Regions from separate parts of the Homo sapiens genome. Here region 1 is linked to region 2. The links come from fine-mapping of genetic effects on gene expression. A gene starts in region 2. The other region holds a variant in brackets. All regions are shown on one strand. Distances are from middle to middle. Region 1 overlaps GABRG3 (gamma-aminobutyric acid type A receptor subunit gamma3). Region 2 holds the start of GABRG3-AS1 (GABRG3 antisense RNA 1).

Region 1 (5,000 bases), 110 kb after region 2:
GGGCTGGGGTTAGGGGTTCTGGCCACTGTTGGAAGGTTTATTTCTCCACCTGGACAATGGACATGAGAGCAATGTTTACTCCACACCCTGTCTCTGAATCCTTCCCTTGATAATAAGCAGGGAAGAGTATAGAGTCTGAACAAGAGGAGATAGGAGACAGGGACAATATTTTTCATTAAGGAGGACCCAAGCACACACTGCACACAGAGGAACTAGATGATGAGAAGGTGCTTTTTCCCGATCACAGTCTTGGGTCTCAAGAGAAATCAGTGAAGAATCCAGAATAGTGTGCTGGAGCCATTCTTAAAAAGCTACCCTACAAACGAGTTCCATTTATTGCAGAATAAATCAACAACTTTAATGAAAACGCTCATCCACCACCTCTCCCATCCTCACGTCCACTGGTTTTCTGTTTGCAGTGGAAGCCACCGTGGGGGGTCTTGTGAACTTCCCATTCAGTCTGAGCTTGGAGCACCAACAGCAGGATCTGAGCTCCTTCCGGCGGAGGCTTCTCACAAACGCTCTCCACACACCCCAGTTTCATTCTCCCACCAACACTGGACAACACTTCTCACTTTCTTTCCACAGCTTTTTCCAGCACTGCATGATCACTTTTAGAACATTCTTGCAAATTCTCAGGCTGGTTGTCTGGTGTTAATTTTCATTTCAGGACCTAAAACCATGCCTGACTCAAACAACGGGTTCAATATCTCAATATGTATGTTTATTTTCTTTTTTCTTTTCTTTTTTTTTTTTTTTTTTTTGGAGACAGGGTCTCACTCTGTCAACCAGGCTGGAGTGCAGTGGCACAATCACAGCTCACTGCGGCCTCAGTTCCCCCCAGGCTCAAGTGATCCTCCCACCTCAGCCTCCCAAGTAGCTGGGACTACAGGTGTGTACCACCACACCTGGCTCATTATTTTGCATTTTTTGTAGACATGGGTTTTCTCCATGTTGCCCAGGCTGATCTCGAACTCCTGGACTCAAGTAACCCACCACCTCAGCCTCCCAAAGTGCTAGGATTACAGGCTTGAGCCACTGCACCCAGCCTGTACATTTATTTTCTGTTTGTGACTATTTGTGATTTTTCTCCTCCTGCAAATTTTTAAAAAATATTACCTTGAGTTGATCACTGCAGAATGTATACATGTATCAAAGTGTCACATTGTACCTCATCAATATGTGCATTTATTATTTGCCAATTAAAATAATATAAAACTCTTTAAAAATTAAAAACCATATATTTCCCTAGTATTTCTGGGATGATTTTTTTTTCTCAATGACTTTTGAGAATGCTTTTGCTTTGTTCTCAAACCTTTGATAATCTCCATCATTACTGGTTGGGTATCCCTTATCTGAAATGCATGGGACCAGAAGTGTTTCAGATCTCAGATTATTTCATATTTGAAAATATTTCCATACAGATAATGAAATATCTTAATAATGGAAACCAAGTATAAACAGGAATTCATTTATGTTTCATACACACCTTATGCATGTAGCCTGAAGGTAATTTTATTATTCCTATGGGAACGCTGAAAACACCGTGTGTTCTGCGCCAGCGTTTGACTGTGACCTGCCATGTGAGGTCAGGTGTGGGATTTTCTATTTGTCGCATTAGGTCAGTGCTCACAAAGCTTTGGATTTTGGAGCCTTCTGGATTTCCGATTTTCAGATTTGGGATGCTCCGCCTGTATCTAAGTCTTCCATTATCTCCTTTTGACTTCCTAAATAAATACTTATAACATTAGCAAATAATGATAGCTTTAGAACTAATTTCCCCGAGTTACAGATGTAACAAGTTCAGGTTATTTTTTTGTACTGATTGGTCTTTCCATCCTTCTTAAGATGTTACGGGGTGAAAGCCCGGGACGTGCTAGCAAGCTGCTCCGGTGCGGGACACAGAGTCTCTATCACAGGCTGCTCCGGTGCGGGACGCGGAGCCTCTATCACAGGCTGCTCTGGTGTGGGACACGGAGTCTCTATTACACAGCCTTCTTTTGTTTGGGGGGCTAGTTGTTGTTGCTGCTGCTGCTGTTTTTCACAATCCTTTAAGAATGTAAAGACTATTATTAGCTGACAAGTCATTTAAAAAAAAAAAAAAAAAAAAACAGGTCTTGGCCCTTGGGCTGTAACTTACAAACTTTGCCCAGTTTCACTCTCAGGTTTGACGCTCTTGCTTTGTGGCTGACAACCATTCCACCAAGGGTCCACTCAGAGTCCCCCTCAAAACGAGGACAGTAACTTAGACTTTTGTAGTCGATCTTAATAAAGACAGGTAGTTCCCCGCTGGTCTCAGGGCTTCAGTGTGGTGCACAGCAGCTGTTCCTCCCCGCTCGATACAGAGCTCATCTCACAACCTGAAGCCCCCGGATCTGCTGAGTGTCCTTTCAGAGTAATAGCTGCTTTTGAAGCACCGTCCCTGGCATCAAGACTGATCTGTATCCATTCCATCTGACGGATCTGCAGCTCTGCGTTGTCCTGGCCAGTTTTCTGTATGGGAGTCAGGGCGGCACCACAAAATAAACGGATGCATTTC[C/T]GCCTTTCTTGTAACACTCAGTCAAGTCTTACAGCCTTGGGAATGTTGCTTCTGAAAAACGTGACTTTGGCTCTGGAACCTGTTTTGGAGGAAATTCTTTGATAACTTTTACAGTTTTTTCCAGTGTTGCTTATTTCCTTCTTCCTTGTTTATTTCTATTTTTATTTTAGATTCAGGGGGTACACGTGCAGGTTTGTTCCCTGGATATGTTTCGTGATGCTGAGGTTTGGGCTTTGATCGGTCCCATCTCCCAGGTAGTGAGCACAGAACCCAACAGGCAGTTTTTCAGTCCTTGGCCCCCTCACACCCTCCCTCCTTTTTTCTTTTTTTTTTTCTTTTTGAGATAGAGTTTGGCTCTTTCGCCCAGGCTGGAGTATAGTGGTGCGATCTCGGCTCACTGCAACCTCCGCCTCCCGGGCTCAAGGGATTCTCCCACCTCAGCCTCCTGAGTAGCTGGGATTACAGGTGCGTGCTATTTTTTTTAGTAGAGATGGGGTTTCACCAGGTTAGCCAGGCTGGTCTCGAACTCCTGACCTCAGGTGATCCACCTGCCTTAGTCAAAGTGCAGGGATTAGAGGCGTGAGCCGCCACACCCGGCCCCTCCCTCCTTTTGAAGTCCCCAGTGTCTATTCCCATCTTTATGTCCATGTGTATCCAAAATTTAGCTTCCACTTATAAGTGATGACATGCAGTATTTCATTTTTGTTTCTGCATTAATTCACTTAGGATCACGGCCTCCACCTTCCCATCCATGTAGCTGCAAAGGATATGCCTTCATTCTTTCTTAATGGCTGCGCGGTATTTCACGGTGTATATTTACACATTTTCTTTTTTCTGTCACCATTTATGGGCACTTTGGTTCATTCCATGTCTTTGCTATTGTGAATAGTGGTGCAGTGAACATACAAGTGCATATGTCGTTTTGGTAGAATGATTTATTTTCCACTGGGTATATACTAGGTAATGGGATTGCTAGTTCTGTTTTTACTTCTTTGAGAAATCTCCAAAATGCTCTCCACAATGGCTGAACCAATTTACCTTCTCACCAACAGTGTATAAGTGTTCCATTTTCTCTGCAGCCTCTCCAACCCTGCTGGCTTTTAACTTTTTAGTAATAACTATTCTGACTGGCGTGAGATGGTGTCTCACTGTGGTTTTGATTTGCAATTCTCTGACGGTTAGTGATGTTGAGGATTTTTTCATTTGTTGGTCACTTGTATGTCTTCTTTTGAGAAGTATCTGTCCATGTCCTTTACTCACTTTCTAGTGGGGTTATTTGTTTTTGTTTGTTGATTTAAGTTAGTTATAGATTCTGGACATTAGGCCTCTATTAGAAGCATAGTGAATATTTTCTCCCATTCTGTGGGTTGTTGATAGTTTCTGTTGCTGTACAGAAGTTCTTTAGTTATTTGGTCCCACTGTCAATTTTTGTTTTTGTTGCAATTGCTTTTGAGGACTTAGCCATAAATTCTTTGCCAAGGCCAATATCCAGAAGGGTATTTCCTAGGTTTTCTTCTAGGATTTTGTTATTTTGATGTCTTACATTTAAGCCTTTAATCCGCCTTGAGTTAATTTTTGTATATGGTGATATGTAGGGTCCAGTTTCATTCTTCCGCATGTGGCTAGCCTGTTTTCCCAGCACTATTTACTGAACAGAGAGTCCTTTCCCTATTGCTTATTTTTATCAATTTTATCAAAGATCATCTGGTTGCATGTGTGTTGCTTTATTTCTGGGTTATCTACTCTATTCCACTTGTCCGTATGTCTGTTTTTGTGCCAGTACCATGCTATTTTGGTTAATGTAGTCTTGCAGTATAGTATGAAATTGTGTTTCCCTCTTCTTTTGATCCAGGTTAATCTTTCCCCCAAATTGTCCACTGTATCTAGACTTTTTAAACTATGAGCATAGCTCTACATTAGGTATTTTAATCATCTGCTGATCCATTTGCTGAATCTTCTTGCTCATTTATTTTTGTTTGTCTTGATACTAGATTTCGTGTGTTTTAGAAGCAGCAGGAGGGAAGTGGCCTGCCATCATGCACCCTCACAGGCACTGTGGCACTTCTTTTGTCAAGGAGTTACAGGAGGAATGAAGGGCCTTATGCTTAGATTTTCTGTGATTCTCCAGGCCTAACACTCCACATTGGCCCACAGAATGCCAAGTTTTTCTACCACCTGTGCCACACGCCGAGGCCCCACTGGCCACTGGCTATGGTGCCACCACCTGAGGGCTGAGTCCTTTCTCTGATCTGGTCACCATTTGCGGCACGGGAGTGACAGCACCCCCCCAAGGTGATCAGAGGTGTTGTGATCAACGTAACTCAGCACTCTCAAGAGACAAAGACAGACCAGTCCCCACCAGAAATTTCATGGGGGTGGGACAGAGAACACACCATCCTTCTACCAGACATGGCATTCTTCCTCTTAGATCAGGGGGCCCCAACGCCCGATCTGTGGCCGG
Region 2 (5,000 bases):
AGCACTGACTTATGTATTTATGAGACAGGGTCTCACTGGAGTGCAGTGGCACAATCGTAGGCTCACTGTAACCTCAAATTCCTGGGTTCAACCAATCTTCTGGTCTCGGCCTATTACCTATTTGATCCTAGTAACAGCCCAAGAGATTGCAGCTGTTTTTCTAAAATGAAATGCTCCATGTGATCACATGGAGGTTATGAGATTTGCCTACAATCTTAGTAGGTGACCCCACTCTGGAGCCAGGGCAACAGAGCAAGACCCTATCTATACAAAAAAATAGGAAAATTAGCTGGGCATAGTGACATGTGCCTGCAGTCCTAGCTACTTGGGAGGCTGAGGCTAAGTTGCCCAGGCTGAACACAAGTCCTGCCCTCAAGAAATCCTCCCTCCTTGGTTTTCCAAAGTGTTGGAACTACAGGCATGAGCCACGGTGCCCAGCCTAGATTTAATTTAGAGGGCAGTAGGAGTCTCTGAGGATACTGAGTAGAGATGAGACATGGTGAGAGGTGTATTTCAGCAGAGTTCATCTGGGACCAGGCTTGGTAGGCAGGTGGGTCGGGGGAGCTGAGAGGTAATGTAGGGAGCAGCCACATGGGACACTGAGACTGGCGAGGGCAAGAAGAGGTAGAGTGAAAGTGATGGCCACCAGCCCAGGCTCCAGAGCTGGGTCACCTACTAAGATTGTAGGTGAATCTCGTAACCTCCACGTGATCACGTGGAGCTCTTCATTTTAGAAAAACAGCTGCAGTCCCTTGGGTTGCTACTAAGATCAAATAAGTAAGAGGATTTCAATGTTTTGAATTCTGAAAACAATGATGTTGCCTTACCCTTATGTGTGCAAGCTAATTTTCTGCTGGTCCCTTATCCCAACTGTGAATGCAGAACCCTCATACCTCCTGCCAATGTTTCTTCAGCTCATCAGCTATATCTAGGGGCATCAGAAGATGCTTCACACATGCTAAGGAGCAGGCCCAGTCCAGTCTCTGGCCAGTCATCCTGTGATGCCCATTTTCTTTCCCTATTCCAATTCTAGCAAACCCTAGGTACTCCCTTTTCCATTTGGCGTGTTTCTCCATTGGATACCATTGATATCCATTACTGCCAGGTACTGCACCCGATCTGGCCCCTACCTACCAAGTCAAAAAAGTGCCACTACCATTCCATCTAGCCCAAGAGGACCAAAGCTGCACAGTGGCCAGTGGCACAGGGAGGAGATATTCACTTTATCCTTTTGTACAGACCCATATCTAAGAAGGCCAAAAGTATGGCTGCTTTACCATGTCAATACCTTACCATGATTTCAGTGAAACAGTTTTAGCTTTCCCCTTACCACCTCCTTCTCAGGTACCCAAGGAGTGAACAGAGTACCAAATGCTACACTCAGCGTGATCCCTAACTCTGTGGACCAAAGCTTTGCTAATGAATCAAGTTCACCGTCCTTGGGTTGGGCTCTCTCCCAGGAAATTCCTCAATATGTCATAATATACAATTCTTCCTATATCCTTAATTTTTTCCTAAGCATCCCCAGATATTTTGGGTCAGATGGGACAACTTCAGTACTAGTAAGCTGTAAACAGTCTTAGAGAATCATTATCAGTTTTATTGCATAAATTTTCCCTTCACTTTTATAAATAAAATTATAGTGTATGTGTAAGTTTATTTCTATGCATATATTTTTAAGTTCCTTAAAGACAGGGAGGATATCTTTTATCTTTGTTTCCTTTGAAGAGCCTGTCATTTGGTAGCACACAATAATGGCAGCTGCATTAGGTTTCACATCCTTTAGTTTATAGAAGCTGTGATGTATTAACTACAGTATCACCTTCCTGGTCTTTAAGATTCTGCACATGCTTTAAACTAATTTTTCTAATACGTGTTCCTGTAGCAACTAGATATCAGTATGAAGAGAAAAACATGAACCTTGAACTCCTACCTCATACCACAAGTAAAAATTAATTTGAGGTGAATTACAGACCAAAATGTGAATGCTAATATATTCAAAATGCTAAAGTATTCAAATTTTAAGAAAAAAGCAAATACAAATGTATATGACTTTTAAATAAGCAAATAACTTGTAAATAGGACATCAAAAACACTAAACATAAAAGAAAAAACATTGGCAAGCAAATTTAACTTCTTTAAGAGCTTTTCTTCATCAAAAAGCATCATTAAAAACGTATGCAGACATTGTAAAAGATGGAGGTTTCCTAAGTTCAGGGTTCCTCTGCTGTGGCACAAACTGGTTGGCTGTTTCACACTGCCCCCATGGAACTTGGGGGGCAAGGAGAACAGAGGCAAACATGAAGCTCACAATGCCTGCTGTGACATCAATGCCTACAGTGTAACAATGTCCTTTGTCTCTGACCCAGGCATCTCTTGTCTTCTTCCAGAAACCATGACACTATGGCAGGCCAACTTACTAGCTTTCAAGTAAGGTAACATCTCAGACCATCATAGGTTTTGACAGGGGAAACTCTGAAGGACCACAGGAGTTGGAGGTTCCACGTATCTCTAAGTAGTAACATACGATGGGTCCAAAACAGAAGAAAGAGAACTCAAGATTCCCGAGCCACAGAGCTGTTGATTGGAGGCTGACTCAGAGAAACCCTGGATTCAGTGACATACAGAGACAACAGGTGGGTGCACCAGCCCCTTTCCTTGACAGGCTCCCAGCATTTTGTCTGTAGGTTTGCAACTTCCCAGGCAACAATAGAAAAAAAAAAATCTTCCATCTGAGGAAATTAACAAGCCAAAGTAAAAAGACCTGGAAATACTAACAAGCAGTACTTCTCTGAAATTCCCAGTTTTCATCCTAATATGAGGCCCATAGAGAACTTCCAACCAGCCAGGAGTGCTTCATATCTACTTATTCATGAGAGGCCAGTAGGGAAATGCTCTATCATGAATGATGTACTCCAAAACAAACAGAAGCAATGTGAGACCAGAAGAAAACTTCCAGAAACTATGGTTAAGATCCTCCAAAAGAAAAAAAAAAAGTTACTGGTTCATTGAAATAACAGGAGGATGCTGTAAAAAAGAAACATCCTAAGTATTAGAAAGATCCTTCAGAAATTAAAAAAAAATCAGTAGTTGGAAGGTAAATTTGAAGGGATTTCCCAAAAACTAGCATAAAACCAAACAGAGAAGTCTTATAAAAGAGAAAAGTAATAAAAGAATTATCAAAGAAATAATACCAAACAATCTCAATAATCAAATGACTTTACATATAGTTAAGACTTGCCTAGTCCATGGCATATGAAAAGAAAATCAGAAATACTACCATTTGAAATTCCAGAATAAAAGGGGGAAGACCTTTCTGGTTGTGGCTGAGGATAAAGGGGGTTGGGGCAAGAAGCAGCTCACAATCAGACTGACCTAAGGAAAGATGGCCCAGAACTCACCCACAAGCAGTGGATCTATGTTTGCACAACTCTCAGGGGAAATTATTTTCTACCCATTCACAAAGTTACCTTCCATGCAACATTCCTCAGAAGATTCCTGGAGAATATTCTCCACCAAAGTAAGGAAGCAGAATGACCAAGACTGGGAAGATCTGGTGGGGAACCAGGGAGTCCACCCAGGAAAGAGCAGGAGGGTCTTGCAGTATGACAGTGAGGGGTTCAGGTGGGCCACTGTGGCAGGCAGCCCTGTGGGAATGGGAGGGAGGGTAATCTGAGTCTGTGGCCATGGAGGTTGGCTAAAGCCTTCCAACCCATGGAGAGGGCTGTGTGCTTCCATCACAGCTGCCAACAAAACACTACAGTGCTTGGATGTCAGACATTATTTTCTTTTAAAGGGACTTAATCGCCTTCTGGACAAACATAATCTATGCGACCTCCTCCCCATAAGGTAAGCAGGTCACACTAGGACATTCTGCAAAGTTCAGTAATTACATGACTGTAACATTGTAAGCAGGGAATGTGTATCTGACCAAATCTTGGTTCATGATTGTTTTGGAAGGTGAGCGGGGGAACAAAAGGGGAAAATGGGTAGAGTGTAAGACAGGGAAAGTCTAGCGTTTCCAGGAGGCATCAATGTAGCTGAGAACGAATAATCAAATGTTCATATAAGGATATTACTAGGAACATGATGGAAAATAAGAGAAGAAATCCCTTAAAGAATGGAAAATGAACCCAGGTTCAGGCAGGATGGAGGGAGCTGCACTTTTTTTTTTTTAAGATGGAGTCTCACTCTATTGCCCAGGCTGAAGTGCAGTGGCGCAATCTCGGATCACTGCAATCTCCACCTCCCAGGTTCAAGCGATTCTCATGCCTCAGTCTCCCCAGTAGCTGGGATTACAGGTGCGCACCAGCACACTTGGCCAAATTTTGTAATTTTAGTAGAGATGGGGTTTTGCCATGTTGGTCAGATTGGTCTTGAACTCCTGAGCTCAAGTGATTCACCTGCCTCGTACTTCCAAAGTGCTGGGATTATAGGCGTGAACCACCATGCCCGGCCTGTATTTTTCTTTTTGAGTCTTTTAGTATTATCTTATTCTTTTAACCATAAAAATTAAATTGCTTAGATAAATATAAGTTTTATAGCAGAACATGGAGGAGGAGGGCGTGGAGGAAGAGGGAGGAGAAAATAAAAAATAAAGTCCTTTGTAGGTGCCATAAGCAAAGTGAGCGGTTTGGAGAGAACACTGTACATGACTTCCTGACTACAATGGCCTGTGGCTGATGAAGTACAGCACTTTGGTGGAAACAGGTGGGCAGTGTGTGTGGGTGAGGAATATGATGGCTTTAAAGACAACATCTTTCAAACTAGAGTGAAATGAGAGACCATTCTCTAAATAAATATTCAGGTGGTAATTTGCCATACGAAAAATTTCAGCTGTAAGATGTGTTCACCTAATAAGGAGGTATTCCCCACATGACATGGTTTATCATGGAAATAGTGAAGGTTTTATTTTTCCTTTTTTAATATTTGACAATAATGCCATTTATTTGTTATTAAATTTTTAACTTAGCTACATAGCAGTTTATTCTAACCCTTGG

What was found. PIP is the estimated chance that this variant, and not a neighbour inherited with it, causes the effect.
Region 1: its variant is fine-mapped to the expression of GABRG3-AS1 in spleen (GTEx, PIP above 0.99).

What each region holds. Positions count from the first base shown.
Region 1 is chr15:27,052,118-27,057,117 of GRCh38, reverse strand. All of the region lies in intron 3 of GABRG3 (gamma-aminobutyric acid type A receptor subunit gamma3), which reads right to left. All of the region lies in intron 2 of LOC124903449 (a long non-coding RNA gene), which reads left to right. Among named protein-coding and RNA genes, the nearest start is that of GABRG3, 83 kb to the right of the region's middle. RefSeq lists an enhancer at 4,305-4,804. The variant C/T (reference allele first, on the strand shown) is at 2,540.
Region 2 is chr15:27,158,658-27,163,657 of GRCh38, reverse strand. It overlaps GABRG3-AS1 (GABRG3 antisense RNA 1), which reads left to right and starts at 2,339. Exons shown (of 3, transcript NR_120343.1): 1 at 2,339-2,636. The region is part of intron 3 of GABRG3 (gamma-aminobutyric acid type A receptor subunit gamma3); the gene reads right to left.